Linked DNA regions of Homo sapiens: regions 2, 3 and 4 are each linked to region 1. Evidence: fine-mapped QTL for protein levels in blood plasma. A gene starts in region 1. Each other region holds a variant in brackets. All regions are shown on one strand. Distances are from middle to middle. Region 1 holds the start of ACY1 (aminoacylase 1). Region 2 overlaps POC1A (POC1 centriolar protein A). Region 3 overlaps DOCK3 (dedicator of cytokinesis 3). Region 4 overlaps KLHL18 (kelch like family member 18).

Evidence for each region. PIP is the posterior inclusion probability: the model's chance that the variant is causal. Protein levels are from antibody-based Olink assays in UK Biobank. Linkage for the fine-mapping came from a reference panel and not from the study's own genotypes, which makes the PIPs less certain.
Region 2: its variant is fine-mapped to the plasma level of the ACY1 protein (UK Biobank, PIP above 0.99).
Region 3: its variant is fine-mapped to the plasma level of the ACY1 protein (UK Biobank, PIP above 0.99).
Region 4: its variant is fine-mapped to the plasma level of the ACY1 protein (UK Biobank, PIP above 0.99).

What each region holds. Positions count from the first base shown.
Region 1 is chr3:51,979,502-51,987,003 of GRCh38, reverse strand. ACY1 (aminoacylase 1) reads right to left here and starts at 3,469. Exons shown (of 15, transcript NM_000666.3): 1 at 3,415-3,469; 2 at 2,846-2,957; 3 at 1,733-1,797; 4 at 1,539-1,643; 5 at 1,058-1,152; 6 at 673-749; 7 at 500-589; 8 at 343-399; 9 at 1-16. The coding sequence starts at 2,939. ABHD14A-ACY1 (ABHD14A-ACY1 readthrough) reads right to left here. Exons shown (of 17, transcript NM_001316331.2): 4 at 2,846-2,957; 5 at 1,733-1,797; 6 at 1,539-1,643; 7 at 1,058-1,152; 8 at 673-749; 9 at 500-589; 10 at 343-399; 11 at 1-16. ABHD14A (abhydrolase domain containing 14A) reads right to left here. Exons shown (of 5, transcript NM_015407.5): 4 at 6,376-6,611; 5 at 5,808-6,168. The coding sequence ends at 5,986. RefSeq lists a silencer at 3,435-3,884 and an enhancer at 5,338-5,839.
Region 2 is chr3:52,124,812-52,132,949 of GRCh38, reverse strand. POC1A (POC1 centriolar protein A) reads left to right here. Exons shown (of 11, transcript NM_015426.5): 8 at 7,769-7,837. Among named protein-coding and RNA genes, the nearest start is that of POC1A, 26 kb to the left of the region's middle. The variant A/G (reference allele first, on the strand shown) is at 3,363.
Region 3 is chr3:50,689,871-50,698,008 of GRCh38, reverse strand. The region is part of intron 1 of DOCK3 (dedicator of cytokinesis 3); the gene reads right to left. Among named protein-coding and RNA genes, the nearest start is that of MIR4787, 19 kb to the right of the region's middle. The variant G/A (reference allele first, on the strand shown) is at 3,463.
Region 4 is chr3:47,328,597-47,336,734 of GRCh38, reverse strand. KLHL18 (kelch like family member 18) reads right to left here. Exons shown (of 10, transcript NM_025010.5): 4 at 6,586-6,784; 5 at 3,418-3,578; 6 at 1,916-2,052; 7 at 1-200. Among named protein-coding and RNA genes, the nearest start is that of PTPN23, 48 kb to the left of the region's middle. The variant C/T (reference allele first, on the strand shown) is at 3,537.

The DNA.
Region 1 (7,502 bases):
CTGGTAACCCGCACCCCTGGGGAGGTGTAGGGGGAAGGCAGTGTCTTCAGCCTGAGGGGCTGGAGACACAATCAGCCTGGGGTGGGCCCAGGTCTCCCCCTCATTCCAGGCTCCTCTGGCAGGGTCCTGTCCCCACTCAGGGCCCGTAGCATACAGCTGGTTTCTGCCCATTCAGGGCTTGCCCTCAGAGAAGCTCAGATAGGAAAGAGCTGGGAGGTAGAGGCCCTGGGTTCAAGGCCTTCTCAGGCCTCAACTTTGCTGTGCAACCCTGCATAGGACCGTGCCCTTTCTGGCCTAGCCTCCCGCCTGTAGAGTGAGCCCTCCCTCCAAGCTCATACTTACACCAGGGACTCCGCTCACTATAAAAGACAGTGAAGGCATCAGTGGGATTGGCTATGCCTGAGGAGGGAAAGGGGGTTCAGAGGGTGGAGCAGCTCAGTCCCCACTAGCAGCCTCCTACTCCCTGCCTGGCTGCTCATTGGCTTGCCAACCTGCTCACCCTCATCCAGGGCAAAGCCTGCCCTCAGGGCGTGGAACTCAGGCCGCTGCACGAACAGCTCCATGCCTTGGTGACCCCCAACCTCCTCATCTGTAAAAGCAGCAGGGACGTGAGATGAGGAGGCTGCCCCGCCCCACCCTCCCCTTTCCCAAAGGTATCTGAGCCACTCCTACCAGGCACAAAGGTCATGTGGATGGTTCTGGGGAACCGGTGGCCCTCCACCTTCAGCCTCCTCACAGCTTCCAGGTACCTGAGGGGGCATAAGCCAGGTGCTGGGGGAGCCACCAGATGCGCAGGCTGGCCCCACAGGCAGGGCCAGCAGGCTGGAGTCCTGTGTCCTGGACTTTACCCTGCCACACCCTGATAGGGACTCCAGAAAGTCCCTGCCCCTCTCTGGTCTGAATCTCCCTATCCATGCAATGGTCATGGCAGTAGTTCCTGTCCAAGAGGTCACGGTGTTCCTTGGCCTTGAGTTTCTCCAATCACCCCCTCAGGTCCTGCTTCAATCCACTGGACCAGTGGGGACATTGTGGAGGAGTAGGAATGGAGGACACTCACTGGATGCTGACGCACTTCATGTCCTGGGCACCCCTGGCATAGATGTAGCCCTCAGAATCCTTGAAGGCCTCAAAGGGGTCGTGACTCCAATGTTCCTGGGGGCAGGGATGGGAAGAGGGGCCCAAACCCCAAATTTAGCCATTAATCCACTCTGGTCAACAGTGGCCCTGCCCTAGGAGCCCACCATAGGGTTGGAGTGACAGGTGGAGTGGTGGGAGAGGAAAGACGGGGGCTGAAGAAGGCAGCTGATTGCCATCCCCCATTGCTGTCTCCTGCTTCCCACCCCCCAGTCCCCACCCCACTCTGGCCCAGAACTTGCTGCTGGATGAAGGCTGCTTGAGTGGTGTAATGTCATAAGGATGTTGAGAGTTAGTGTCAGGACTGGGGCCAGGACCATGAGCAACTTGAGGTTGAATCCTGGGGTCTGCATCATGTCTGTCCCCAAGGCCTGCACTGCCCACCTCCCCAGCCCCTTACACACCTTGAAGACAGGCACCACATCCGTGTGGGAGTTGAGCAAGATGGAGGAGAGTGTAGGGTTGGTGCCTGGCCAGGTCAACACGGTCACCACATAGCCAGGTGCCACCTGGAGATGGTCAGGAGGGTAGGTGGTCTGAGCAGGGTGAGGAAGTGCCCAGGCCCACCTCCCTTCCCCGCTTAGGGCCCCAGGCTCACCTCTACTTTCTGACAGCCCAGGCCCAGCTGGCGGGCTGTCTCCTCAAAGAAAGCCACAGCAGCTCCTGGAGGCACAGAGTGTCTTGGGGCTGCTTCTGCCTACCCACAGCTTCCCACCAGCCCAGGCAGCCCGGAGAGTGGAGCATACCCAGAAATGGGCTGCTGCCTCCCCGACACACTCCATATCCCTCAGAGATGCTTGCATTTCCATCCCCAAGAAAGAAGATATTTTTGGCTACTCAGTGACCCTTTCTGGAAGTCCAGGGGGATGTCTGGACACAGGGTTGGAGGAAGGTGTTATCTTCCTTAAATATGGGAAACTATGGCACAGAGACATGAAGAGATTCACCCACCATCTCTCAGCTGATTAATCACAGAGGAGGAATTTGGACCCATGTACACAATTCCCAGCCACTAAGTTTTTTTTTTTTCTTTTCCTTTTTTTTTTTTTTTTTTTGAGACAGGGTCTCACTCTGTCACCAAGGCAGGAGTGAAGTGGTGCGATCTCGGCTCACTGCAGCCTCAACCTCCCAGGCTCAAGCGATCCTCCCACCTCAACCTCTGGAGTAGCTGGGACTACAGGTGTGCCACCATTCCTGACTAATTTTTGTATTTTTTCTGTAGAGACAGAGTCTTGCCATGTTGCTCAAGCTAGTCTTGAACTCCTGGGCCCAAGCAATCTGCCAGCCTCAACCTCCTGAAGTGCTGGGATAACAGGCAGGAGCCACCTCCCAGGCCCTAGCCACCAAGCTTGACTCCCTAAGGGCTGTGGCCTTTGTCCAGCCCCAGTGGGCTTCTGGAGGGCCTCTCCTTTCCCTGTGGCTGCCTCAGGCTTCCCCCACCACTCCTGCCCTGGAGAGTGAGGTGAAGTTTTTCTTTAACCAGCTGCCAGGAGTAACCTTGGTCAGCAGCAGAGTCTCTGGGGAAAGGGTTCCTCCCTAACCTGGAGGGGCTGCCTCAGTCTATTTACTTGGGGAATGGCTGGAGGGGTTGGGGAGCCATTTGGGACAGCAGAGTGGGGCTCAGCTGGGTGACAGGGGTTGGAGGCTGGTTTAGAGCACAGTCCCCGTCCCTTAGGCCCCGTCACAGGCTCTGGAACCACCGTCTTCTCACCATAGTCAGGCTTGGGCTGGACAGTGCGGATACGCAGGTACTGGCGGAAGAGCGTCACCGATGGGTGCTCCTCCTCGGGACCCTTGCTGGTCATGGCGCTGCGCGTGGTGAGCTGGGGGCAAAGTGAATGGCTAACTACCCCTCCAAGACCCTGGAAATGGTGAGCTCCTGCACACAGCCTGTCCCCACGGCGGCTCCCGGACTTCCCACAGGGGTAGGATACCGTGTTTCGGAGCCCCCATTAAGGAGCACCCATTCTGTTTCAGGCGCTGGGCTGTCTGCTTCCAGCACATTTCCTTATTTAATCCCCAAAAGAGCCCCATGAAGTTTGTGCTCAGAATGCCCACTTTACAGAGGAGAAAGCTGAGAGGCTCAGAGAGGTTCAAGGACAGCTCATAGAGTAGCTGAGCAAGGTTTGAACCCAGACTTGTACTCCCCCCGCCCTCCTAAAAAAAAAAAAAGGCAAAAACAAAAACAAAAAACAAACAAGAAAAACCCCAACGCCTCCCAGTTGCCCGGCTTTCAAGCCACGGAGCCCCAGTCCCTCTATCCCTCCCCAGGGCCCCCACCTCACTCTCCTGTCGCTGGGCTCACGCTCGCCTCTCAGCGCCCTTCCCTGACTGTGGCCTGGACTTAGGGTCCAGCGAGGTCGCCTGCGAGGTCGCAGGCTCAGGACCGCCCCGGTCCGCCCACCACGTGGCCGAGGCCGGATGTCGGGGCGGAGACCGAAGACCGTCAGTGAGGGCCGTCCCGGCGCCAGCGGCCGCGTCGGCGCGGATGTCCCCGCCCGCCTCTGGTTCGGGCCTCAGCGAGATTACTGGAGGATTAGATCCGGATCCCGTCCCCGGGCAGCGGCCGCCGCGGCCAGCGCCGCCCCGCGAGTTGCGAGCTCCGGGCTGGCCCTGCTCTGACAGGCTCGCCCCGCCCCACACGACACGCCTGCCACTCCTGCCCCCAGGTATGCGCCGGGAGCTCAGGACGGTCCCGTCCCCTAAGGGCGCCTCCTCCTTCAGCCCCCGGATAGGGCGGGAGGAAAGGGGGCCGCCCCGAGGCTCTCAAGATGCAGAGCTGCAAAGCCCTGGGCCTGCGCCCTCGCCCTCCTCGGCAAGTCTCCAACGGCTCCCCACTGCAGGCCTCAGCCCCTCGGGGAGGTCCTCCCTGACGCCTCAGCTCCACTTGTACTGAAGTTATTGGCCAATGTCTGTCTGCCCACACTGAACTCCAGGAGGCTGTGAGCTCCACTTCCTGCAAGGTTCTGCCCGGGGCCGTGCCGAGCCCGGACAGTGCCTAGAATGGGAATGAATGCATGGACAAGAGCACGTGTGACGGTTTAAGCGTGCCACTGCGTGTGCAGTCTATCAGTGGATATGATTGTGTATGTGACAGTGTGAGATGGTGGGTGGGTGTGATGAAGTCACTGTGAATGGATGTAATTGTGACCCTGGATGGACAGTGTGAGGAAACTGGCTCTTCTGCAGCCACCAGAGGGGGAGGCTAAACAGGCACAGGTGTACCACTGGCCCCCTGCAGGCCACAGCTGCAGTTGCCCACTTGTGCCCCAGCTGCCCTTTGTACTCCCAGCCAGGTCTGCCCTCTGCTCCAGGGGCTGAGTCAGCTTGGGGAAGGGTGAGGGACAAAGACTTCAATCTCTAGGCCAAGGAGGCACGCTGTGGGAAGGGTTCTGTCCCACCTTTCCTGAGGTTTAAGTCTTGGCTGCTCACACATAACATGGGGGCAAATGGACTTTAACTCATAACAATGCTGGATAATTCTTTATTTAGTTATTTTTTTGATACAGAGTCTCACTCTGTCATGCGGGCAAATAGATTTTAACTCACAACAATGCTGGCTAATTATTTACCTATTTATTCATGCGGGCAAATAGACTTTAACTCATAACAATGCTGGCTAATTATTTAGCTATTTATTTTTTTGAGATGGAGTCTCACTCTGCTGCCCAGGCTGGAGTGCAGTGGCTCCTTCTCGGCTCGCTGAAAACTCCGCCTCCTGGGTTCAAGTGATTCTCCTGCCTCAGCCTCCAGAGTAGCTGGGATTACAGGTGCGTGCCACCACGCTGGGCTAATTTTTGTATTTTTAGTAGAGACAGGGTTTGTCATGTTGGCCAGGGTGGTCTTGAACTCCTGACCTCAGGTGATCCACCCGCCTTGGCCTCCCAAGGTGCTGGGATTACAGATGTGAGCCACAGTGCCCAGCTAATGCTGGTTTTTTTTTTTTTTTTTTTTTTTTTTTTTTTTTTTTTTTTTGAGACGGAGTCTCACTCGCTTTGTCACCCAGGGTGGAGTGCAGTGGTGTGATCTCGGTCTTGGCTCACTGCAAGCTCCGCCTCCCGGGTTCACACCATTCTCCTGCCTCAGCCTACTGAGTAGCTGGGACTAAAGTCACCCGCCACCACGCTCGGCTAATTTTTTGTATTTTTAGTAGAGACGGGTTTTCACCGTGTTAGTCAGGATGGTCTCGATCTCCTGACCTCGTGATCCGCCTGCCTCGGCCTCCCAAAGTGCTGGGATTACAGGTGTGAGCCACTGCGCCCGGCCAATGCTGGCTAATTGTTAAATCGCGTTCCCCATACCCTCTAGGTTCCTGACTTCCTTGGCTTGGCTGTCCAGACCCTGGATTTCCCACCAATCCCTGTGGTCATGCAGCAGCAGTAATACACCCCGCCTCCCACCAGCAATTCCCCAGCCTTATGTGGCCAAGTACTCAGTTATCCAGACTCATTCAGTCCTATAACCACCCTCCAACCTAGGTGTTGCCATCATACCCGTTTTACAGATAAGGAAACTCAGGCACAGAGTGGTGAGGCCAGGCACTTAGGAAGTGGCGCATTCTTAGCCTTCTCAGACTGCTGGACATCCCCTCCAGCTCCCAGGCCCAAAGTAGTCCCAGACTTGCCTCCCACTCCCGTCTTTCCCACAGCACACCAGGAAACGGAACCTGTCACTTCCCAGGCAGGACAAATATGCTTTTTTATTGTGTCTGTGAGATGAAATGAGGAGTCCTGGCTGGGTCTGACCCTGGCCTCTGGCCTCCAATCCCAGAGGCTGTCTCCCTGGTTCAGGGAGGGTGGCGGTCCAGACTGTCCAAGCTCATGCCAGGCTGGGAGCTGGGAGTGGGTTAGTTCAAGGTAGATGGTCAAGGAAGGCAAGCAGGACAAGGTGGAAGTCTTGCGGCTTGTGGAGGTAACAGGCATGGCCTGCATTGCGTAGCTTCACCACAGAGTGGTTGGGCAGGTGGCGGAGCTGCCGCAGTGACTCTCGAGCCAGGATGTGGTCCAGCTCTCCATACAGGATAAGGGTTGGAGTCTGCAGGGCAAGGCAGGGGGCTGTGATCTTGGGGCCTGATGAGTTTCTGACCCCCAAGCCACTTCCTAGGAAGCCTTCCCCAACACCATCCAACTCTTCCATCCAAGGTCAGGGATAAGGCCATGTCCCTCCAAGTAAGACTTGAGTCCTGAACCCCCCCAAGCCACAGACAGGGTGCCAGGACCTTTGAGATCCTTCTCCCAGTACCTTCACAGCCCAGAATTGCTCCTGGGTGTAGTTCTGGGTGGAGGTGGGTGCGATGGGCACAAATCCATGTAGCTGGTGGTGGCCTCGCATCAGGAAGGGCAGGGCATAGTGGCCACTCAGCGAGGGGCTCACCAACACGGCATTCTGTACCTCCAGGTCCCGCAGCGCCCGCTCCAGCAGCGCTGCCCGCCCTGCCTCTGTGCTTGCCTCCTTTGAAGGTGCCGAGTTCCCAAAACCTAGGAACAGCAGCAGGTACCAGCTGAGGGGCACTGGGAAGGGGCACAGGACTTCCTGCCCACCACAGTGGGGGAAAAAGTTGGGGACCACTGGCACTGGCACACACTACCTAAAACTGCCCAGAAGCTATTTTCTGGTAATGTAATATGCCTGTTAGAAAAGCATATCTTGGCCGAGAGTGGTGGCTCACGCCTGTAATCCCAGCACTTTGGGAGGCCGAGGCGGGCAGATCACGAGGTTAGGAGATCGAGACCATCCTGGCTAACACGGTGAAACTCCGTCTCTACTAAAAATACAAAAAATTAGCCAGGCGAGGTGGCGGGCACCTGTAGTCCCAGCTACGCAGGAGGCTGAGGCAGGAGAATGGCATGAACCCCGGGGGGCGGAGCCTGCAGTGAGCCGAGATCATGCCACTGCACTCTAGCCTGGGCGACTGCGAGACTCTGTCTAAAAAAAAAATAAAATAAAATAAAAAATAAATAATACCCAGTGTTGGGGGAGACATGGGGAAATGGGCACTTTCATACATGACAGATGGGAAGATAAATCCATATAGTGTTTTTGGAGGGTGAGATAGTAGTTATCTAAATTTAAAAATGCATGTCCTGGCAGCTGGGCGCGGTGGCTCATGCCTGTAATCCCAGCACTTTGGGAGGCCGAGGTGGCGGATCATGAGGTCAGGAGTTTGAGACCAGCCTGACCAACATGGTGAAACCCTGTCTCTACTAAAAATACAAAAATTAGCCAGGCATGGTGGGGCGCACCTGTAATCCCAGCTACTCAGGAGACTGAGGCAGGAGAATCGCTTGAACCCAGAAGGCGGAGGTTGCAGTGAGCCGAGTACGAGCCACTGCACTCCAGCCAGGGTGACAGAGCGAGGCTCTGTCTCA
Region 2 (8,138 bases), 150 kb before region 1:
CTCAGCCTCCCGAGTAGTTGGGATTACACGTGCACGCCACCATGCCCGGCTAATTTTTTGCGTTTTTAGTAGAGACAGGGTTTCACCATGTTGGCCAGGCTGGTCTCGAACTCCTGACCTCAAGTGATCTGCCTTCCTTGGTCTCCCAAAGTGCTGGGATTACAGGCGTGAGCCACCACGCCTGGCTGGGGATTCAATTTCAGTATCAATTTTGTTGGGGACAAAAACATTCACACCATAGCAGGGGTGGATGTTGGTTACAAGTTTATTGTGGCCCTGAAGAATTCTGGTGCTTCTCTCCTGCAGTCCTGGCTTGGGGACTCTGGGTGATAAAGGGCCCTCTGCCTCTCAAATCTGCCCATCCTGAGAGGAGAGTGGACAGATGTGGGAGGTGCTGCCTGCAGGTTATGGTGCATTGCCCTCCTTCCACAGCCTTTGCCCTGGGAACACCAGAGCCTGTATGGGTCACCTTTGCAAACATCTTTGATTGAGGCCAAGTGCTGGGATATGTTCAGCTGGGGAGGTTACACAGCCTTGTCTGGTGGGGGATGATACTTAGCTTTCTCAGGAAAACCCCAGTATTTTTAGGAACAAACAGTTTGTACCCACCCATTTCTGGTTTTGAAAAACCATGGGTCCTCTCCCATCTTGTTCATCTGAAACAGCCTGAGCTTCAGGAGGGGAGGAGGAATGGGCTTGGGCACTGGGTCAGATGATTCCAGTGTTGCCTCTTTTTATGTGACATTGGGCAAGACCTTGACTTTGCTGAGTCTCTTTTCTTATCTGTGAGACTGACATCCCATTGTCTGCCTCATGGTAGGAGAGGATGTGTCTAAATTTCCCAGCACCGGACACAGTAGGTCCTCATAGATATTAATCCCTTTCCACTTGAGCTCATGGAAAATGATGTCATGCCGTTTTAGGTGAGAGCTCTTTAAAAGGGCATTAGAAGTTTCTGTTGTGGACATGGTCCTGGTGATGCTGAGTGGGTGGGCAGTCCATTTGTTAGAAAAACGGGTCCATGGGGGTGTCTGGTGCCTTAGCCACCCCATTTCTGGCATGGGGCTGTGGCCTCTGCCCCAGGGTTGGAGGCGCGCGTTTCCTCTCCTGTGCACCTTCGGAATCTCTCAGGGGTTCATCTGCCTTTTACTTTTGCTTAGGGTTGTTGTCTCCCCCAGAACATTTTGCTTTGGCTTCTCTTGTCACACAGCTCATGGAATCTGTCCCCTGGTTGGGGGCTGGGGAGACTCCCCGACCCAGACTCGTGTCCCCACCAGCTGCCCTCGTGGGTTTGCTTTGCCGGGTGCCTTGGTGTACATGTCCATGTGCACTGCCCTTTGTCAGGCCTGTCCTTCCAGTCATCTCAAGGGCCTGACTCCTGGAGGATGGCTGGTGGATCAGGAGACCCGCGTGGTGGCACTGGTGCCAGTGCCCTATTTGAGGCTCTGGAAAGTCTTGGTCAGGGGGTGTGACACAACTGTGACGTTAAGCAGGAGGAAAGGGAGTCCCTGCCTCTCACTGGATGTCATACAGACTTGGGTTGTCAGAGCTGCAATGGAGGCTCATGATCCCATCTCACCCCCTCATTTTATAGAAGGGAACACTGGTCAGGAGAGGGAAGGGCTTCCCTACCAACTACCACGGTTGTTCAGAGCCTCAGGCCCCGTGTGAGGCCCTCACAGCCCCATGTGTGGCAAGCGTGGGGGGCAGTGTGCTAGAAATACAGATTTATCTTTCTGTATTTTCTGAAACATAATCTTGAGCCACACTTACTTGGTTTAAGTTCTCTAGAGCTATTTGGGAGAGGATGGTGGGCGGGTTGTGGGTGGGGAGTTAAATCTGGTATTTGTGGCTGTGCAGTTGGTGTGCATGTCGCTGTAGAGTGACTGAGCTGCACACGGTGCCATGCGCCCCCGCCACCCTCCCCCCGACCCCGTGTGGGTGAGCAGCCCCTGCCCTGGACCCAGACCTGCACAGGCGCTGCTGTCTGTGCTCAGGGCTATGCTTTGAGACTTAGTTGGTGGGAACTTGCAGGCTCAGAGTAGGAGACCCACTGATGCTTATGGGGTGCTTGCGCCATGCTGGGCCCTAGGTTGAGGTTGGGATAGCAGCAGCAAAGGGGATGCACCTTCAAGCAGGGGAGGCGACTGTGTGACAGTGGCTGGGCCAGTGGGCCATCCCTCTGTCCACCCCAGGTGGAGGGCAGCTCTGGGAGTGGGCCACCCCTCCCTTGTTTCTGTGAGAGCTCTGTAGCTCCTGTCTAGGCATTTTGGAGGACTGTTTTGATGCTCAGGAGGGTCACACCTGGCTTGGGTGGTCGGGCACCTCCTGTGAGAGGTGAGAGGACATGCAGAGAGAGAACGGCTCATTTATTTCACACTAAGAAACTAAGAAGTTGGCCTGGCCCTCTGTCCCCTGCCAGCAGCCCAGAGTTGAGGGCTGGGAGCAGGTGTCTTCGGCCAGGGTCAGGAGGTCACTCCCCGTCTGTGGAGTTATGATGGCCTCCTATGGGCCCCACTCAGCCATGAGAGCCCAGTTCACAGCAGACCCTGGTAAGTGAGTGCAGGAGCCTCCTGGTGGGGCTCTGGAAGAAGCATCCCAGTGGGTTGGATTGTTGTCTCTCTGTCTGAGCACAGGGGCTGGAGACCACAGCACTCACCCCAGAGGCCTGTTGGGCCTCCTCAGTCCCATTCTCTGTGTGATGGCCACTCTGCTTTTCCCTCTGACTGAGGGGCATGTGGTGTGACAATCCTATTTGTTCACTGGAAGACTGTGCATATGAGAGTCAACACAAAATATTTTGCAACGCGTGAGAGGTGGTGGTGGGTTTGCCAGCATAGCTGTTGTGGGCATGCAGTCAGAGTTCAGGCATACAGGGGCCTCTGAGAGTCAGGCGGGAGAAGGTGAGGAGGATGAGGAGAGCAGCGAGGTCAGTGTGAGCTGCCGGAGCAGCAGAGCGAGAGCCAGCACGACTGTGAAATCTAATCACCATGGGCTCCCTTGTTTTGCCTTAAAAAAAAATCTTTCTCTGTTGATACTTTGTTGTTTGAAGAAACCAGGCAATGTGGGTCCTTTTTAGGTCTGGAAATTGGCAACAGAAGATGATGTGTGGTAAAATGACTGGGTGTGGATCCAGCCAAGCTCCAGGGCCAGATATGGCCCGGTTAGCAGGTAGAGTAGCAGGGAGGCCAGGCTGTGTCTGGGTTCATGACTGGTTAAGCAGGACCATCTCCCTGAAGATTCTGCCTGGTCTTTCAAGGGAGGGAGGGAGGCCCTTATTGAGCCTGTGAGGCATCCCTGCTAATGGACCTGGCCTGGAGTCAGAGGGAGACCAGGGCTTCCCACAGGTGGGTACCTCTGGT[A/G]GCTGGGGGCAGGCCGGCATCCACACTGCTGAAGGCCCAGCCAGGAGCCGCTGCTCAGAGGAATCCTCAGGGGTGTGCAGAGACACCCAGAGACAGGTCTTGCCTTTGGAGAGGATGGACTTGGCAATATCCCTGCCCCAAGTGGATACCCTGATGCATGAAGAGTGATTGATTAAATAAAAGGAATAAGCCATCATGAGGGTAGAACAGTCTCCAAAAACATGTATCATATCTGGCTGCTGGCAATGGTAAGAAGAGACTCTTCAAGCACCTATGGTTTGGAAACTTTATTTTATTTTATTTATTTTTGAGACAGAGTCTCGCTCTGTCGCCCAGGGTGGAGTGCAATGACATGATCTCGGCTCACTGCAACCTCCACCTCCTGGGTTTAAGCGATTCTCCTGCCTCAGCCTCTCGAGTAGCTGGGATTACAGGTGTGTGCCACCGCCCCTGGCTAATTTTGTAGTTTTAGTAGAGATGGGGTTTCGCCATGTTGACCAGATTGGTCTCGAACTCCTGACCTCAAATGATCCTCCCGCCTCAGCCTTCCAAAGTACTGGGATTACAGGTGTGAGCCACCATGCCCAGCCTGGAAATTCTAGAATGCACTCTCAAACAACCAATGGGCTGAAGGGGAAATCACAGTGGAAACTAAACATTTGGAAGTGAATGACTGAAAATGTTGCATACTGGAAACTTCCAGGATCTATTGAAGGTGTCATCAGAGGCAAATTTGTAGCCTTAAATTGATTTATATAAAACCAAAAAAATTGAAAATACCTGAATTAAGAACTCAATGCAGGTGACAGCAGAAAGAATATAGAGAAAGAGAGGACCTTTTCTGTCTAGATCATGGTGTTTGAGGAGCACTAGGGCAGGGAGGAGAGAGCCTGGAAAGTTAGCAGGGGCCGAAGTAATCTGGGGCCTCCAAGGCTAGGCCCTGAAGCATGTCAGCAGTGGACAGTCTCTTCTACAGTACATGTTGGCTTTGGCCCACAGCAGAGCCCAGGTGTTCTCTGTGCTGTCCTCTGAGTGCCCTGGGCTGCTAGGCAGAAGAACAGGAGCCTTCGTGGAAGGTACCTGGAGCAGGGGCTGCGTGGTCCTCTTGGTAAACAGGCACTGTTAGGGAGGACTGCAGATCCACACAGCTTATCACTCGCTTCATCCCTGGAACTTCCTGGGGTTTGGTCTCGTAAAGGAGCGCTAGCACTTCTTATCTGCAGGGCTCCCAGTGCCTGCGCTCTGGTCCTGACCCCTGCTGAGCTGAGTGTTTTGTTGGTTCTGCTGCTGTTGCTGCTGCTCTGACTCCACCACCTTTTCCCAACTTGGCCTCTGGTGGTTGAGTCATGACATGAAAGGAGAGTGACCTGCAAGTATTTTTCCCTTAGTTGCTGTGACTTCTTGGAAACCTGCCATCACTCAGTGAGCTCTGGGCAGGCAAAAGGCCCATCTTTTTTGACATTCCATGTACTGGTTTCCTTCTCTTTTCTCTGTTTCCTCTTTGTTTTTCCTCACAATGAAAGTAGTTTTGTTGTTTGGTGTTCGTATTAGTGTAGCAATGCCATATATTCATTATTAAAAAATTCAAAGTAGGCCAGGTGCGGTGGCTCATGCCTGTAATCTTAGCATTTTAGGAGGCTGAGGAGGGTGGATCACTTGAGGCCAGGAGTTCAAGACCAGCCTGGCCAACATGGCGAAACCCCGTCTCTACTAAAAATATAAAAATTAGCCGGGTGTGGTGGAGGGTGCCTGCAACCTCAGCTACTTGGGAGGCTGAGGCACAGGAATCGCTTGAACCCAGGAGGCAGAGGTTGCAGTGAGCCAAGACTGTACCATTGCTCTCCAGCCTGGGCGATAGAGCCAGACTTTGTCTCAAAAAAAAAAAAAAGGTTTGTGACTGGGTGCAGTGGCCCACATCTATAATCCCAGCACTTTGGGAGGCCGAGACGGGCAGATCATGGGGTCAGGAGATCGAGACCATCCTGGCTAACACAGTGAAACCCCATCTCTACTAAAAATACAAAAAAAATTTAGCTGGGCGTGGTGGCGGGCACCTGTAATCCCAGCTACTCGGGAGGCTGAGGCAGGAGAATGGCGTGAACCCAGGAGGCGGAGCTTGCTGTGAGCCAAGATCGCACCACTGCACTCCAGCCCGGGCAACAGAGCGAGACTCTGCCTCAAAAAAAAAAAAAAGGTTCAAAGTAACGGAAAAATGAAAAATTTCTAAGAATCAAGTAAAAGTTACCTGAAATTACCTCACACCCCTCTGTTAACCCCTTGGTGACTGTCCACCTGAAAGGGTATCTGAGTGATGGATGCCCTGCCCTCATCCTGCAGTCAGGCCCTGCATGAGCAGGGGCCACACAGCCCGTGATGTCTTACACTTGGGATTTCACCCTCACTGATGTTATTGGGCATTGTTTCTCTGTTAGTAAAAGTGGATCTATATTATCCTGGTTAATGGTGGCTTAGGATTCCCAGGGCTGCTGGGAGTGGGGCATTCCTGGGCCCTTGCAGCTCTACCTGTGTGAAGAAGGCAGGAGGGCAAGTGTAGGCCAGAGGCTTTGTCTTTGTGTCCTCTCAGGCTTTGTTCCCTGCACTTGGACATGGCACCCTTAGGAAGGGTAGTGTGATTAGAATGTGTTCCCCAAAGTTCATGTATTAGAAACTTGATCCCCAGTGTGGGTTGTTGGGAGGTGGGGCATAATGGGAGATGTTTGGGTCCTGAGGCCATGCCCATATATATGAATTAATGCCATTCTTGCAGGAGTGGGTTTGTTACCATGGGGTGGGTTTCTTATAAAAGGATGACTTTGGCCCGCTTTTCTTTGTCACCCTCTCTTTGCCCTTCTGCCGTGGGATGACTCAGCAAGAAGGCCCTTGCCAGATGCTGGCCCCCGATCTTGGACTTCCCAGCCTCTGGAACTGTGAGCCAATACATTTCTGCTCATTATGAATTACTTAGTCTCAGATATTCCATTATAGCAACAGAAGTGGACTAAGGCAAAGGGTCACCGCACAGACTGTCCTTTCAGGATTCAGTGGGTAAATGCAGGTGCTGTGCTCTGAGCGCCTGAGTGCTCGGTGTTCACCAGTGTTGTACTTGCTTTTTTCGTCAGAGGTGTTATGAGCACCTCTGAGAGGAAGAGCCGAAGGTGGACTCTGGAAGCATGGGTGGGCATACTCCCTGCTGTCCAGTGTGTCTGAGGCTGAATGGCACCTCTCAACCTGCCTGTCTCTCTGGGAGACAAAAGCTGCCTTCCTCCATGGCCTCGAGGTCCCTTTTCCCTCCCAGAACTTGGCTGGTCTTTTCTGGCATTAAGTGGAAGGCGCCTCCCAATGTTCCTCTCATTGATGAGTCAGCTGTAGATGTGCTGCCAGAGCCCATCTCATGGGCAGTTGGGGCTCTTGCCGCTCCCTGCACTGGTCTGGGGGGACTGAGGTGGACTTGGTGACAGTGGCTGTGCTGTCTTCTAGGAGAGAACCTCTTTTATCTGATTTTGCTTGGGAATACCAGGTACTGGCCACAGTAAAAGTTCGACTGGGAGGAAGAGATGGTGGTGGCTGTGGTCATGGTGTCGTAGCTAAACAGATCCTTACTCTGAGCACCTTTCTGGGATGGATTTTAGGTATGTGGGGAAGAACCCTCCTTTGCTAGGAGATCATGCATCCCCCATCTCCCCCGCCCTGGACTGCTCTCCAGCCCTTGGAGTGCGGCCTGGCGTGTGCCTGGCATTCCCCTTCAGATGGTCACGCAGACCTTCAACATCTGGGAAGCCAGAGTGGGCACATCACTACCCATGGCCTGAACATAAGAAAAGTGAATGCACATTAGAGAGACGTGTCACATTGCTCTGCTGCCCAAGCACCTTTGGAAACCTCCTTCCTGTCACCTGTGCCTTGAACTATGCCCTGTCTGCTTGAGCCATTGGCTCTTCCTTGGAGATCCCTATTTCTCTGGTCAGCAACTGTGCAGTGTTGGGGAGATGTTGGGTGTTAGGGTTGGTCTGGGTCAAAGGGACCAAGTTCTGGTCTCAGTGCTGTGGCTGGGGTGACTCAGTGCATCTCTCTGACCTGTGGTTTCTTACTGGGAAAGTGGGGACAATGAGGCCAGCCCTGGAGGGCTGCCAGTGCAGACTGTCCCATTCACTCATCTCTGTCACCCACATTCTCATAGCCTGGACTTGTCCCTGTTGTAGTGCTCAGGAACAGAAGCCTGAGCGGTGGTGCTTGCACCTGGCTGCAGGCAGGCTCCTGGGCTACAGGTTACGGAGGACTGTGGGCTGAGTGGGCTCTCGGTCCTTTATCCTGCTGCTGCTTTCATTCAAGAACGTCTCGTTTTCTTCCTGTGCATTTAGAATGGAGAATGACCTTTGATGTGTGTTATTTTTTGTTTGTTCTGCCAGGGACCAGCCACCACTGTTGCCTTTTCAAGAACGGGGGAGTATTTTGCTTCTGGAGGCTCTGATGAACAAGTAAGTAAAGAGTAGTCGAATGGAATGGTGAAGAAGGGAATCTGAGCTGATTTCTGCTCAGAACCAAACAGGGTGTTTGGGGGATGGGCTGGGTTTCGCCAGCTTCCTTGGTGGCTTTCAGCGACTAAAAAGGCCCTGATGGCGCTTGGGGTGGGGTTGCCCAGATCCAGGGGCCTTGCCACTCCAGAATGGGCCTCCTGCAGGTGCCGACCTCATGGCTGCATCTCAGAATCCTCACTGCTCAGGCTAGCGCTTAGTGGAAGGAGGCTGGGCTATGGTTGTCGTGAAAAGTTGGTTTTTT
Region 3 (8,138 bases), 1.3 Mb after region 1:
TTTTTAAAAGATAAAAAAAGAAAAATAGTAAGCAAAAGATGATAAACATCATGGAAGAAAACTTACTATGAGAATAAATTTTATATAACTGATTTTTACCTCAAAAAAATTAAAATAGCACAGACTTTAGGACCTAAGACCAAATATAATCAATTATCACAACAAAGCAGCAGACAAAAACAGGTGTCTCTCCAGTCACAGGAAACCATCACAGAAGAAATTTAAAAGCATTAGAATAATTTGAGAATTATAATCATAATGATGAGCTGAGTCACACTGAATAAACAAAAACCCATGAGTCCATAACAATAATAAAAGAAGAAATGGCAAAACAAGACACAAAAGCAATCTTCTAGAGGCTAAGGTTGTGCCCGGCTCATTTTTGGGGTTGGTTTGTTGGTTGGTTGGTTTGTTTTTGAGACGGAGTTTTGCTCTTATTGCCCAGGCTGGAGTGCAGTGGCACGATCTCGGCTCACTGCAACCTCCGCCTCCTGGGCTTAGGTGATTCTCCTGCCTCAGCCTCCCAAGTAGCTGGGATTACAGGCACCCGCCACCACACCCAGCTAATTTTTTGTATTTTTAGTAAAGACGGGGTTTCACCATTTTGGCCAGGCTGGCCTCGAACTCCTGACTTCAGGTGATCCACCCACCTCGGCCTCCCAAAATGCTGGGATTACAGGCATGAGTCACCATGCCCAGACTTGCATTTTCCTTTAAACTCTTCATTTCAATTAAGTAAACGACAGAAATAAATTCTGAAACTAGCATTCAGTGCTATGGGCAGGCACAGTGGCTCACGCCTATAATTCCAGCACTTTGGGAGGCTGAGGCGGGTGGATCACTTGAGGTCAGGAATTTGAGACCAGCCTGGCCAACATGGTGACACCCTGTCTCTACTAAAAATACAAAAATTAGCCAGGCATGGTGGTGCACATCTGTAATCCCAGCTACTCGGGAGGCTGAAGGGGGAGGATTGCTTTAACCCAGGAGGTGGAGGTTACAGTGAGCCTACATAGCGCCACTGCATGCCAGCCTGAGCAACAGAGTTAGTGAGACTCTCTCTTAAAAAAAAAAAAAAAAATTCAGTGCTATGTGTCAGAAAATCAGGAGCTTTAAAGGTAGGCTTTAAAAAGTATACACACAATGTAGAGAAAAAAGACAAGTTGAAATGTTTAAAGTAGAGATTCTTAACCTGAGTCCAAAGACAAGCAACAAGAAGTCCATAAACATTCTGACACGACTAGTAAAATTTTACTTGTGCATATGCGGGTTTCCCATAGCACTTAACAGATCTTCAAAATGGAATTGACACCTACCCCACCCCACCCCCAAAAAAGTATCACTAAATTAAAGGGAAGATGGTAGCTGCAAATAACATGGTCCTCCCAAAACACCTTGCACAAATCTTTCATGCCTTACTGTCCCCTGTGACCTGAATTTGCTCTCATGCTTCTTCTTCACTCACAAAATCCTATTCACTCATCAACACTCAGTTCTACTTTCACTCTTAGGGATATTGCCTTGCACGCCCCCAGGCTCTGAACTCCTACAGCACATCCTACTTCTATCCATTGTACATGTTTGACATTTACAATACCTTTGTGAACTCGATGTGCATCAGGTAGTCTTATCTCCTTACTGTTCTGTGTCCAGCATCCTTAACTCTCACCTTTTACAAAAACTCCCCCACTCTAGTGATTTCAGTGGGGCTGTCAATCGGACCCCTTCAATAACTGGGCATATGAAGTAGATTGGGCCATACCATTCATTCCCTGAAGTTTTTCTGACTGGAAACAGCTCTTTCCTATTCCATCATGCTGTGTAAACATGTACCCAGAACTGTAGGAGCTATGGTCCCCAATTATAAAAGGAGTAAATTTTTAAAAGTTAATGACTGCAAGAAAGAATGCAACACATAGACACAGAGATATCAAATGGAGACACAGAGGTCTTGATGCCTTAAGGACCTGATTCTGTTCAAACCGTGTTCAAGTAAGACAAACCCCAGGCTATAACCAATCTGGCTATTTCTGTACCTCACTTCATTTTCTGTACATCACTTTCCTTTTTCTGTCCATAAATCCTCCTCTACCACATGGCTGTGCTGGAGTCACTGAGCCTACTCTGGCTCAGAAGGCTGCCCAATTTGTGAATCATTCTTTGCTCAATTACAGTCTTTTAAATTGAATTCAGCTGAAGTTTTTCTTTTAACAGATGGTGTCAGAAGTGGGATCCGAAGTAGAGCTTCTAGCGACCCCCAGGAGCACTGAGTGACCAAGCGAGATACCCACCAGGCCCATTGTGTCCATTCCTCTCTCAGAACAGCTGAGGATTGTGGAAAGTTCTCTCTCGCATTCCAAAGTTCCACAGATTTGTGCTTAGCGCTCTTTGAGTCTCTTTGAGCAAATTTCTGATCCAAACTGGGTTTGGAGGTCATGACAGAAACTGGACTAGGTCTAGGATCAGATTACATCTGATATTAATTGGGCTGGATCCAGTTAGAGGCCTCTTACATCTGACTGGGTCAGAAAGAAACCAGTAGTAAATGGCAATATTGGAGGGGGTATAAAATTTGGCTTTTGGAAATTCACAGGGATTTGTGCATTCTACCCTCTTTGTTTCATTTTTCTTGTGCACTTAGATAGAAAAAAAATCACTAGCTAAGTTGATCAGGGGAACCTGAGAGCAAAGCCAGTATTTGAGGTAAAAACAGGCTCCTTAATTTGTGAAGAACTGAGTTCCTTCTGGCTTATACATGCATAAGTATTAAGCCCTGGAGGCAGCAAAGTCTTACAGAAATGGTGAAATCTTACTAAAGATAAGTTACAGTGCTTATCCGAATGAACAACACTGAACAGAAGTGCATGTGATTGGGGGCTCCCAAATTAGTCTTATCTAGGGATGCCTACTGATATGTAGAAGCTTCTAAAAAGATTGCATTATTTTTATCTAAAGACGTTATCAAAGGCAAATAAAAACCTTAAGTGACTAATTGATTTAAAACAAAATTAAATCTGCTAACCTTTCGGCTTAGTTACTAGCCTGCCCCAAAGGGAAAAAGAAAGCTATCCTATATAAGGTATTTATGAAGGTAGGCCCTCAAGTAAAATAGGCTTGCTTCTTTTTCAGATCTATTTATACTGAGTTCTTTTTGTTTGTTTTTTTGTTTTTCATTTGTTTTTTTGTTTGTTTGTTTTGAGACAGAGTCTGGCTCTGCCGCCCAGGCTGGAGTGCAGTGGAGTGATCTCAGCCTCACTGTAACCTCCACCTCCCCGGTTCAAGTGATTCTCATACCTCAGCCTCCCAAGTAGCTGGGATTACAGGCATGCACCACCACGCCCAGCAAATTTTTGTATTTTTTTAGTAGAGACAGAGTTTCACCATGCAGGCAAGGCTAGTCTCAAACTCCTGGCCTTAAGTGATCTGCCCGCTTTGGCCTCCCAAAGTGCTGGGATTACAGGC[G/A]TGAGCCACTGCACCCAGCCTGTTGGCCCCATTCTTTAATGCGCTCCACCCATTACTCTGAACTCAGTAATTTTAGCTAAGAAACAGTAGCTATGTTAAAAAGAATACCCTATTGAACTAAAATACACTTTTCTGGAATTTAATTGGCTATCCTGAAACTCTTTTGTAAAAGAAATCTAAATCTATAAAGGAAATCTCCATTTTTAAGGATATCTGCCTCTAAGTATTAGAAACTCTTACCATTCTTTTTATTTTTATTTTTTTTTTAGTTTTTTTGGAGACAAAGTCTCGCTCTATCCCCCAGGCTGGTGTGCAGTGGCGCAATCTCAGCTCACTGCAACCTCCACCTCCTGGGTTCAAGCGATTCTCATGCCTCAGCCTCCCCAGTAGCTGGGATTACAGGCGCCCGCCACCACGCCTGGCTAATTTTTTGTATTTTTAGTAGAGACAGGGTTTTGCCATGTTGGCCAGGCTGGTCTGAAACTCCTGACCTCAGGTGATCCTCCTGCCTCAGACTCCCAAAGTGCTGGGATTACAGGCGTGAGCCACCACACTTGGCCAACAATTTTGTATGTAGCAAACCTTAAAGTATTTGTTTAAGGCCTATTAGAGCTAATAAATGAATTCAGCAGTTGCAGGACATAAAATCAACATGCAAAAACCAGTTGTATTTCTGTATACGAACAACATGAGAATGATATGAAAAGGAAGGCCAGGTGCGGTGGCTCACACCTGTAATCCCAGCACTTTGGGAGGCCAAGGTGGGAGGATCACCTGAGGTCAGGAGTTTGAAAATAGCCTGGCCAACATGGTGAAACCCCATCTCTACCAAAAATACAAAAAACTAGCCAGGTGTGGTGGCAGGTGCCTGCAGTCCCAGCTACCTGGGAGGCTGAGGCATGAGAATGGCTTGAACACAGGAGGTAGAGGTTGCAGTGAGCCGAGATCATGCCACTGCACACTAGCCTGGGCGACAGAGTGAGACTCTGTCTTAAAAAAAAAAAAAAAAAAAAAAAGGAAAGGAAATTAATGAACAATATGAAAAGGAAGAAAACAATTCCACTTATACTAGCATCAAGAAATACAATGCTTAGGTATAAATTTAACCAAAAAATGAAAAATTTGTATATTGAAAATTACAAAACACTGCCAAAAGAAATTAAAGACCTAAATAAAGATAGCCTATGTTAACTGATTGGAAGACTTAACATTGTTAAGATGACAATCCTGCCCAAAGCAATCTACAGATTCAATTCAGTCCCTACCAAAATCCCAACTGTATTCTTTGCAGAAATATTTAAAAATTCATCCTGAAATTCATATGGAATCTCAAGGGCCCTCTAATAGCAAAAATAATCTGGAAAATTAGAACAAAGTTGGAGGACTCACACTTCTGACTTTTAAACTTAGTACAAACCTACAGTATCAAAACAGTGTGATACTGGCATAAAGACAGAACTATATAGACCAATGAAACAGAATACAGAGCCCAGAATAAACCCTCACATATATTGTCAAATGATACTCGACCATGGTGCCAAGACCATTTAATGAGAAAAGGACAGTCTCTTCAACAAATGGTGCTGGGAAAACTGGATATCCACAAAGAATAAAATTGGACCCTTGTAATAACACATACGAAAATTGACTCAAAATGGATCAAAGCCTTAAACATAAAATCTAAAGTTAAAAAACTCTTAGAAGAAAACATACAGGGAAAGGTTCATGACACTGGATTTGTCCATAATTTCTTAGATATGTCACCAAAGACACAGGCAACAAAAAAAACAAAAAAAGATAAATCAGCTTCATCAAACTTAAAACTTTCATGCATCGAAGGACACCATCAACACAGTGAAAAGGCAAACAGCTACAGAATAAGAGAAAATATTTGCAAACCATATATCTGATAAGAAATTAATATCCAGAATATATAAAGCAGGGGTCCCTAACCCCTGGGCCACAAATTAATATCAATCTGTGGCCTGTTAAGAACCAAGCCGCAAAAGCACAAGGTGAGCAGTGGGTGAACAAGCATTATCTCCTGAGCTCTGCCTCCAGTCAGATCAGCAGTGGCATTAGATTCTCATAGGAGTATGAACCCTATTGTGAACTGTGCATGTGAAGGATCTAGGTTGCACGCTCCTTATGAGAATCTAATACCTGATGATCTTGAGGTGGAAGAGTTTCATCCCAAAACCATCCCTTCTGCGGTCCATGGAAAAATTGTCTTCCACGAAACCAGTCCCTGGTGCCAAAAATGTTGAAGACTGCTGATATAAAGAACTCCTACACTTCAACAACAAAAACAAAAACAAAAACAAAATTGAGGCCAGGCACAGTGGCTCATGCCTGTAATCTCAATGTTTTGGAACCCCGAGGCAGGAGGATCTCTAGAAGATAGAAGTTCAAAACCAGTCTGGGCAACATAGCAAGACTATTACCTCTAAAAAATAAAAAATAAATTAGCTAGGCACAGTGGCACACAGCTGTAGTCCCAGCTACCCAGGAGGCTGAGGTGGGAGAATCCCCTGAGCTCAGGAGTTTGAAACTGCAGTGAGCTATGATCGTGCCACTGCACTCCAGCCTGGCGACAGAGCAAGACTCTGTCTCAAAAAAAAAAAAAAAAAACTTTTTAGATTGACTTTTAAAATGGGCAAAGGATTCGAACAGACATTTTTCCAAAAAAGACATACAAATGGCCAATAAGCACATGAGAAGATTCTCAACATCACTAATCATTAGGGAAATACAAATCAAAACCACAATGAGACACCACTTCACATCTATTTGAAAGGCTATGATCAAAAATCAGAAAACAACAAGTATTGGGGAGGATGCAGAGGAACTAGAATCCTTGTGCACTGCTGGTGGGAATGTATAGCACAGCCACTACAGAAAACAGTACACTAGCTCCTAAAAACACTAAAGACAGAATTATCATATTGTTCAGCAATTCCACTTCTTGGTATATACCCAAAGAAATAGAAAACAGGGAGCTTAACAAGTACTAGCATGCCAGTGTTCACTGCAGCATTATTTACAATAGCTAAAAGGTAGAAACAACCCAAGTGTCCATCAGCAGAAGAAGGAATAAACAAAATGTGGTATACCCATACACTGAAACATCATTCAGACATAAGAAGGAACGAAGTTCTAACATAGACTACACCATGGATAAACCCTGAAGACCTCATGCTAAGTGAAATATGCCAGACACAAAAGGACAAACATTGTATGATTACTTTTTTTTTTTTTTTTTTGAGACAGAGTCTCGCTCTGTCACCCAGGCTGGAGTGCAGTGATGCGATCTCGGCTCACTGCAAGCTCCGCCTCCTGGTTTCATTCCATTCTCCTGCCTCAGCCTCCCAAGTAGCTGGGACTACAGGTGCCCGCCACCACACCTGGCTAATTTTTTTTGTATTTTTAGTAGAGACGAGGTTTCACCGTGTTAGCCAGGATGGTCTCGATCTCCTGACCTCGTGATCCACCTGCCTCAGCCTCCCAAAGTGCTGGGATTACAGGCATGAGCCACCGCGCCCGGCCATATGATTACATTTATATGAGTTATCTAGAATAGTCAAAATCACGGAGATAGGAAGTAGAGGCCAGGCACAGTGGCTCATACATGTAATCCCAGCACTTTGGGAAGCCGAGGTGGGTGGATCACGAAGTCAGGAGTTTGAGACCAGCTTGGCGAACATAGTGAAACCCCATCTCTACTAAGAATACAAAAATTAGCCAGGCATGGTGGTGCCTGCCTGTAGTCCCAGCTACTCGGGAGGCTGAGGCAGGAGAATCACTTGAACCCAGGAGGCAGAGGTTGCAGTGAGCCGAGATCACACCACTGCACTCCAGCCTGGGCAACACAGCGAGATTCTGTCTCAAAATAATGAATGAATGAATGAATGAATGAATGAACGAACGAACGAATGAATGAATGTAGAACAGTAGTTGCCAGGGGTTGGGGGTGAGGGGGAATAAAGAGTTTTCATTTAACTGGTGTAGAATTTCAGTATGGGATGACGAAAAAATTCCAGAGATAGACAGTGGATGACAGTTACACAACAATGTGAACATACTTAATGCCATGGAACTATATACTTCAAAATGGGCAGGGCACAATGGCTCATGCCTGTAACTCCAGCTTTCTGGGAGGCCAAGGTAGAAGGGTCTCTTGAGGCCAAGGGTTTGAGACCAGCCTAGGCAACATGGCAAGACCCCATCCATACAAAAAATTTAAAAAATCAGCCAGGCATGGTGGCACATGCCTATAGTACTAGCTACTGGTGAGGCTGAGGCAGAGGATCACTTGAGCCCAAGAGTTTGAGACTACAGTGAACTATAACTGCATCACTGCACTCCAGCCTGGGAGAGAGAGCAAGACCTTGTCTCCAAAAAAAAAAAAAAAGGTAAAAATAGCAAATTTTATGTTACGTACGTTTTGCCACAATAAAAATAAATTATAAACAACCATAGGGGAAAAGCTTCATGATCCTGACTTTGGCAACAGTTTCGTAGCATGACACCACAAGTACAAACAAAAGAAAAAAAACAGATAAATTGGACTTCATCAAAATTTAAAATTTTTGTACATCTAGAGACACCACCAAGTGAGTGAAAAGACAACCACAGAATGGGAGAAATATTTCCAAGTCACCTATCTGATAAAGCAG
Region 4 (8,138 bases), 4.7 Mb after region 1:
CACTCTGGTCCATGTGTCTGTCTCCGGGTTGTAGGCCTCCACAGTGCTCAGCCGTAGCTGGCCGTCATATCCTCCGATGGCATAGAGAAGCCCGTTCACCACAGCCACGCCAACGCGGCTGCGGGCTGTTGTCATGGGACGGCATCTCTCCCAGCAATTGGCAATGGGGTCGAACACTTCCACCACATTCAGGGAATCACCTGCATAAAAATTTGCTACTCAAATTAAAACAAATGAGACCACTTGTTTAGAGCACAGCTATTGGGCATTGATTATATGGAACATTCGACTCAATTCTATTAGCTCTTCCCACAGAATTACTCAAGGCACAAGGGCCCACTAAGAAATTTCAGCCATGATCACCTCAAACCTAATTCTTTAAGGAAAATCAGAATCAGACAGGAGGTATTTATTTTTTAGAGAGGGTAGTTTTCAGTTACAATCAGGTACTCCACCTGCTTAAAGCCAAAGGTATAGGTGAATCGATACAATATTTCCTCCAGGCAGGAGGCATGCCAGAGGGACGGGCATGCGCTCCAGTGCTTTCATTTGCTAGGGGGTGACCCAAGGCAAGGGGCTTTGTGTCCCCACCCTCTGCTTCACATGTGAAATGGAGATAATCTTTATGGATTAAATGATATAACAGGTAAAGCACCTAGCATGGTTCTAGAATAAACTTTGCGCTCAATAAATAGTCATAGTAGCAAGGAATGATCATTCCAGCCCTACCTTTTTCATCAGGTTTTTGTGATGATCAAACAAAATAACCCCCTCTTCCTGTGGTATGCTGCTATGGGGCACTTAGCATTTCATTTGCACGCCGCTCCAGCGTGCACTGAGTTGAGGATTTACCTGTTCCAGGCCCTCTGATTAACAAGCAGCAGCTAGTACCCAACTCTCATTAACCTTCAATTAAAAACAAAACTGGGCCAGGTGCGGTGGCTCACACCTGTAATCCCAGCACTTTGGGAGGCCAAGGTGGGCAGATCACTTGAGGTCAGGAACTCAAAACCAGCCTGGCCAACATGGTGAAACCCCATCTCTACTAAAAATAGAAAAATTAGCTGGGCGTGGTAGCATGAGCTTGTAGTCTCAGCTACTCAGGAGGCTAAGGCGGGAGAATTGCTTGAACCCGGGAGGCAGAGGTTGCAGTGAGCTGAGATTGCGCCACTGCACTCCAGCCTGAGTGACAAGAGTGACACTCCATCTCAAAAAAATTAAAAACAATAAAAAATAAAAACAAAACTGCCTGGGAGTGCCCACCAACTGCCCCCAAGTTGGGAGGCCATGCAGCTTTCTGAAAACCTTACTCTTAGATTCAAAAACTGCCAATAACCCACGGACTGTAAAGCATGTGTGTGTTTCACAGGGGGTGGGGCTGAAGAGTAAAAAGTATTATTGACAGTGGTAGACCCTGTGTATTTGGATAATCTTTCTCTTGGGGACTTTCTCAGTCTAACCCCAGAGATCCATATGACAAAATGTGAATAGCCTGGTATGGAACTGGGTCTCTGACTGTATCCTATCCGGGGCTGAAGGATGCTATACCATAGCCAATGTGATATTAGGGCAAAAGTGCTGGCTCAGGAATCAGAACACCCAAGTTCTAGTCCTTGCTCTGCCAAAAACAATTGTATGAACATAGTGAAAGTTCTGTGGGGCTCAATTTCCTCACTTGTCAGGTAAGAAGGCTAGGCCTCAAAGATTTCTAGAAGGTCTCTTTAGCACTGATATTCTGATTCAATGGCATGAATATGTGACATGCTCTAACTGTAGAGCAATTGTATAAAATCAAGAGGGGCAAGGGTGGTGACAGTACAAAACAGAGAAACCAGAAGGGCCAGGCTAATTTGTCTGGTGCTTCCTCATCCATGGAGTCCAAGAGGAGGGTCTATAAAGGGGAGCCGCAAGGTACCTGCTGAGTTGAGGCCCCCTACAGCGTAGATAAGTCCAGCGATGGATGTGCAGCAGCGTGGCCGGGTTCTGAAAGCTGGCAGGTGGGGCCGGCGCTCTGGCATGAGGTGGTAGTCCTTTGCTTCGTCTACCAGGTCCCTAGAATAAGGTGGAAGATGCTAGAACAGGAGGTATCCCCCTGACTTAGTCCTCGTTTGCATCTCTGAGCCTGGCTCTCCACTGCCAACTGCAGGGGAAACCTGGGAGGAGAAGCCTTCTGGAAGGTCTGGTCTCAAAGAAACCAGGTGAGTTCTGGGAAAATCATACATGGCTACTGAGATATACTCAAAATTAAAGGGGCAAGACAAGCAAAGACCACCTCAGCTAGTGTAGATTAGGCATGAGAAAAACAAGGTAGTGGCCAAAATGGCTGGACCTGGGAGTTTCGACAAGCAGCATGCACCCTGTTGCCACTCAGACCTAGCCCTTCCTTTCCATCCCTACGACTGCACCGTGGCTTGCAACCTGCAATTAATCACCACTCATCTCCACGGTGGCAGCTCCTGACACATTTCCCTGCCTCAGGCCTGCCCCTCCATTCCACTTCCACACTAGAGTTCAAGCTAAGAACCTTCAATAGCCACCCACTGCCGACAGAATAAAGTCCAAACTCCTCAACAGCACCCTTGAGACCGCTGGTCACTGGGCCCTAGCTACCTCCAGACACTACTCCACCCCATCCTGACACACACCTTCACACCATCTGCCATGGACAGGCACTTACTTCCTCCTGAACCAGCTGATCCCAACCAGGAGTTGGAAAATGAAAGAAAGCTGAATGTGTGTAAAGTTTTTATCAGCAAAGGAGAAAAAAATATTTCAGGGTTGTGAATTTGATAAGCAATCTGGAGGAGAATGAACATTTTTCTCTGCTGTTCTACTTTTACAGCAATCATCCTATAGGGCTGCCATCTTCTGAACTGTTTGGGTAACTCTGCTGTACCATGTTGTCATTGATTTGCTCTGGGTAAAAGTTTCATGTGTTGGTAAACATGTCTGCCCCTTGCCCATCATCGTAGATGTAAAGCCTACACCTGGCAGAGGCCCTCCATGCCCACAGCACTGACTAATATTTACTGAAGAGGGCAATGAGCCCCAGGAAGTCCCATTTGCGCCACTGAGTGAGCTGCTGGTGTGGACAGGGTCAGAGCAGGCAGTAAAGATGGTTGCACATTCATAAATAGCTCAGTGGGGAAAGATGCTGGAAAATCCTCAGATAACTCAGCAGGGGAAAGCCCTTTCTGCTTTGATGCTCCCACATGGCACATCTCTCTGCCCAAGGCATAAGATTCGGGCTCTTCACACTTCCTGTTCCAGCTTCTAGACAGAGGGCAGACCAATCTGTGTGCCATGAATTAGACTGATCACTCTAAATGCTTTCTTTCCAGAACTGGAACAGGTGGCCAACTCCTCTTCCCTGCTTAGACCTTTGGCAGTGTCCTGTGCAGGTCCACCCTCACTCACCTGCATTTGTGGCAGCAACGCACCAGGTCATCCTGCTGTACTCTGTCTGAAAGGAACTGGGGCCGACAGAGGGGCAGGCGGATATTGGACAGCAGCTCAGGCAGGTAGGGACCCCTCTG[C/T]TCCCGGTCGTATCTGACCCAGGCCAATGCAGCTTCAAAGACCTGTCATGAGAGTGGATGTTCTGGCAGCAAATCCTCCCACCCAGAGGCCACACCCCAGGCCTCCAATCTCAATGCCTCCACTTCCTATACTGAAGCAGTCCCTTGGGCCCATCAATCTTTTCTCCTACTTGTCTCTGAAATCCCTGATTTCTCTCTACTTCCTAGGCTACTAGAACAGCTTCCTGAATTTCATTATGATTATGATTTCCTAGTGAAAAATCATCAATGGCATCTTATTACTTTCTGTGAAAACAAAATGCCTGTTTCCCTTCCCGCTGCTCCTGTACCCCTGCTCCCTCTAAACTCCCTCCATCACCCTCTCTGTACTCCGGCAAGGCTGGGCTGGTTCTCCTGTTTACACTGTCCCCCCTCATCTAAAATGCCCTCATCTCCTCCTCTTCATCTAAACCCACTCCCCTATTTTTAAGGCCTGGCTCTAGATCCATGTTCTCCAAGGAGCCTTTCTTAATGGCTCCAACCACAAGGACCTCTCCCTCTAAAGCCCTACAGCCCTTATGAAATGTATCACTCAAAGAAATGTGAGCTGCCCCCCCGCCCCCCGTCATATTAATTAGTTTAAGAGCTAGGGACAGGACACCTAGTTTTTGGAATGAGGCTTTTTCCTCGAAACCACAGTGTCTATGCTGCCAAGCCCAGGATCCACTTTTCTCCCAGGCTCCTATCAAGCCCGCTTCACCTCTCTAGCATCCCCCTTTTCTAGAGGAAAGAGGAAAATAAATCATACCTTTTAATCCCTCCTCAAATTTCTTTTTTCTTTTCTTTCTTTCTTTCTTTTTTTTTGGAGATAGGGTCTTGCCCCATCGCCCAGGCTGGAGTGCAGTGGCGCAATCTCAGCTCACCTCAACCTCTGCCTCCCAGCTCAAGCAATCCTCCCACCTCAGCCCAAGTAGCTGGGATTACAGGCCAGGAGTTTAAGCTGGACCAGGCCTGGCTAACTTCTGTGCTTTTAGTAGAGATGGGGTTTTGCCATGTTGCCCAGGCTGGTCTCAAACTCCTGAGCTCAACAAATCTGCCCACCTTGGCCTCCCAAAGTGCTGGGATTACAGGCGTGAGCCACTGCTCCCGGCCTTCCTTAAGTTTCTAACCTTCGTCCCTCATCCTCACTCTCAGGTGAGAAAATAGAAAATCAGAAGAGAATTTCAGTAAGAATCTACCTGTCCCCCGTCCCTGGGCGTGTGCCCCAGCTCTCCCTCCTGCTACTGTGGATATGGATGGCTTGTGCTCCTATCAAAGATGCACACCCTTATGCCCTAGACTGTCCTCACTTATTCCAGAACATCATTCCAACAACTGCTCTCCCATTTCTCCAATATTATCAATTCTTCCCTCTCTTCTGGAAAACTCCCAACAGCAGTCAAATATGCTGTAATTTCTCTCACTTTAAAAAAAAAAAAAAAAGGTCGGGCCTGGCGCAGTGGCTCACGCCTGTAATCCCAGCACTTTGGGAGGCCGAGGTGGGCAGATCATCTGAGGTCAGGAGTTCGAGAACAGCCTGGCCAACATAGTGAAACCCCGTCTCTACTAAAAATACAAAAGTTAGCCAGGCATGATGGCGCACACCTGTAATCCCAGCTACTTGGGAAGCTGAGGCAGGAGAAATGCTTGAACCTGGGAGGCTGAGGCTGCAGTGAGCTGAGATTGTGCCATCGCACTCCAGCCTGGGTGACAGAGTGAGACTCTGTCTCACAAAAAAAAAAAAAAAAAAAAAAAGGCCTGGCATGATGGCTCATGCTTATAATCCCAGCACTTTGGGAGGCCAAGGTGAGAGGATCATGTGAGGCCAGAGTTCAAGACCAGCCTGGCCAACGTGGTGAAACCCCATCTCTACTAAAAATATAAAAATTAGCCAGGCATGGTAGCGGGCACCTGTAATCCCAGCTACTTGGGAGGCTGAAGCAGGAGAATTGCTTGAACCCGGGAGGCAGAGGTGCAGTGAGCTGAGATTGTTGCCACTGCACTCCAGCCTGCCTGGGCGTTGGAGCAAGATTCTTTCTCAAAAACAAACAAACAACAACCCCTCTTGATTTCACAGACCCCTCCCACAGCTGCCCCAATGTTCTGTTCTTCCTTAGAACAAGATTCTTTCAAAAAGTTATCTATACTAGGCCGGGCACAGTGGCTCACGCCTGTAAACCCAGCACTTTGGGAGGCCAAGATGGGCGGGTCACTTGAGGTCAGGAATTCGAGACCAGCCTCGCCAACATGGTGAAACCCCGTCTCTACTGAAAGTATAAAAATTAGCCTGGCATGGTGGTGCATGCCTGTAATCCCAGCTACTCAAGGAGGTTGATGCGGGAGAATTGCTTGAACCTGGGAGATGGAGGTTGCAGTGAGCCAAGATCGCACCACTGCACTCCAGCTTGGGTGACAGAATGAGACTCTGACTCAAAAAAACAACAAAAAAATTATCTATGCTTGCTGTTTCTGGTTCACAGGAGGATTATTTCTAATAGTAAATATTGGAAATAACCCAAACATGCAAGAATAAGGTGAGTAGGTTGACAAAAATCAACAGAATGCTATTTAGACACTAAAATGTATGGAGGCCAGGTGCGGTGGCTCACGCCTATAATCCCAGCACTTTGGGAGGCTGAACTCACTTAAGGACAGTAGTTCAAGACTAGCCTGGGCAACATGGTGAAACCCGGTCTCTACAAAAAATACAAAAACTAGCTGGGTGTGGTGGTATGTGCCTGTAGTTCCAGCTACTCGGGAGGCTGATGTGGGAGGATGAGGCTGCAGTAAGCTATGATCTTGCTACTGCACTCCAGCCTAGGTGACAGAGCAAGATATTATCTCAAAAAAATAAATAAAACATAGAAAGTTTTCATGAAAAATGCATGATACAGTAAAACAAGCCCAATAATATACAACAGCCACATACATGTCATGATCTTAACTTTGTAAAAAAATACATAAACAAAACAATGACTATAAAGAGCAGCATCTCATGTCACCTGCACAGACTGCTACTGGGCTCACATACCTGCTCCTCAGATTTGACATTCAGCTCATCCCGAGACACCAGCTCAAGCACGTCTTCCAAGGGCAGGGCCAGGAACTCTTCTGACATGGACACCTCCACAAAGTGCTGGTGGATGAAGCTGTTGGCAGCGTCGTACAGCACAGCACACATCATTGTCTCAGCAAACTGGCGCACACCCAGGCAGTTTTTTGGGTGAAGCCTTTGGCATAAGGAAAGAAAAAAAAAATTAGAGGAAGAAAGGATGTTATCTTTGATCATTCTCAGGCTGGTTCTGGGTAGAGCCACAGAATGAAAACAAATTCTTAACCTCAGCTTTGTTGGAAACTGTATTTCTCTGGGACTCAACTTCTAAAGGTATAAAATTAAGAAGAAAGATTATCCTCAAAGGTCCCTGCCTTTTGGGCCTGGTGCTCTGTGCGTCAGGTGGAATGAGCTCTCTGGGTAGTTCTGTAAAGTAACTGTCAGAAGGTGAGAAGTAACCATCACAGGAGTGCAGGCACTGAAAATCTGTTTGAGACGTTCCACCACTGAAATTCCTGGTTGAGTGTCCAGGGCATTATCTCAACTTTGGTCACAAGGAAGGCACTGAAGTCACAGAATTAGAGTTTAAAAAACACAGACAGGGCTGGACACGGTGGCTCACGCCTGTAATCCCAGCACTTTGGGAGGCTGAGGCAGGCAGATCACGAGGTCACGAGATCAAGACCATCCTGGCTGACACGGTGAAACCCCGTCTCTACTAAAAATACAAAAAATTAGCCGGGTGTGGTGGCGGGCGCCTGTAGTCCCAGCTACTTGGGAGGCTGAGGCAGGAGAATGCTGTGAACCCAGGAGGCGGAGCTTGCAGTGAGCCGAGACTGCGCCACTGCACTCCAGCCTGGGCGACAGAGCAAGACTCCGTCTCAAAACAAAAAACAAAAAACAAACAAAACAACAACAAAAAAAACACAACACGGACAGATGGCTTCTTTAGTATGGGAACTCTTATACTTGTCTTTTTTTTTCCTTTTTTTTCTTTTTTGAGACAGGGTCTCACTTTGTCCCCCAGGCTGGAGTGCAGTAGCGTGAACACGGCTCACATCACCCTTGACTTCCTGGGCTCAAGCGATCCTCCTGCCTCAGCCCTGCAAGTAGCTGGGACTACAGGTGCCACCATGCCTGGCTAATTTTTGTACTTTTTGTGGTAGAGACAGGGATTCACCATGTTGTCCAGGCAGGTTTGAACTCCTGAACTCCAGCAACCCACCTGCCTCGGCCTCCCAAAATGCTGAGATTTTTTCTTGTTTTAGATAGAAAGAGACTCCACGGGCCTAATTGTTCAGACAAGCAGAAACAACAGCAGCAGCTATCATTTATTTACCATCAGTGAGTCAAGTGTTTTGCTAGGCCTTTTATACACATTCTCCAGAATCTTCTTAACCTGTAAAGTAGTAACGCACTCACAGATGGAAAACAGGCTCAGGGAAACCAAAAATGGTGCTCACAGTCCCTTGAGATAAGCAAGTGGTGGTGCTGAGATTGAAATCAGGACTCTTGTGCACATTCCCACGGTA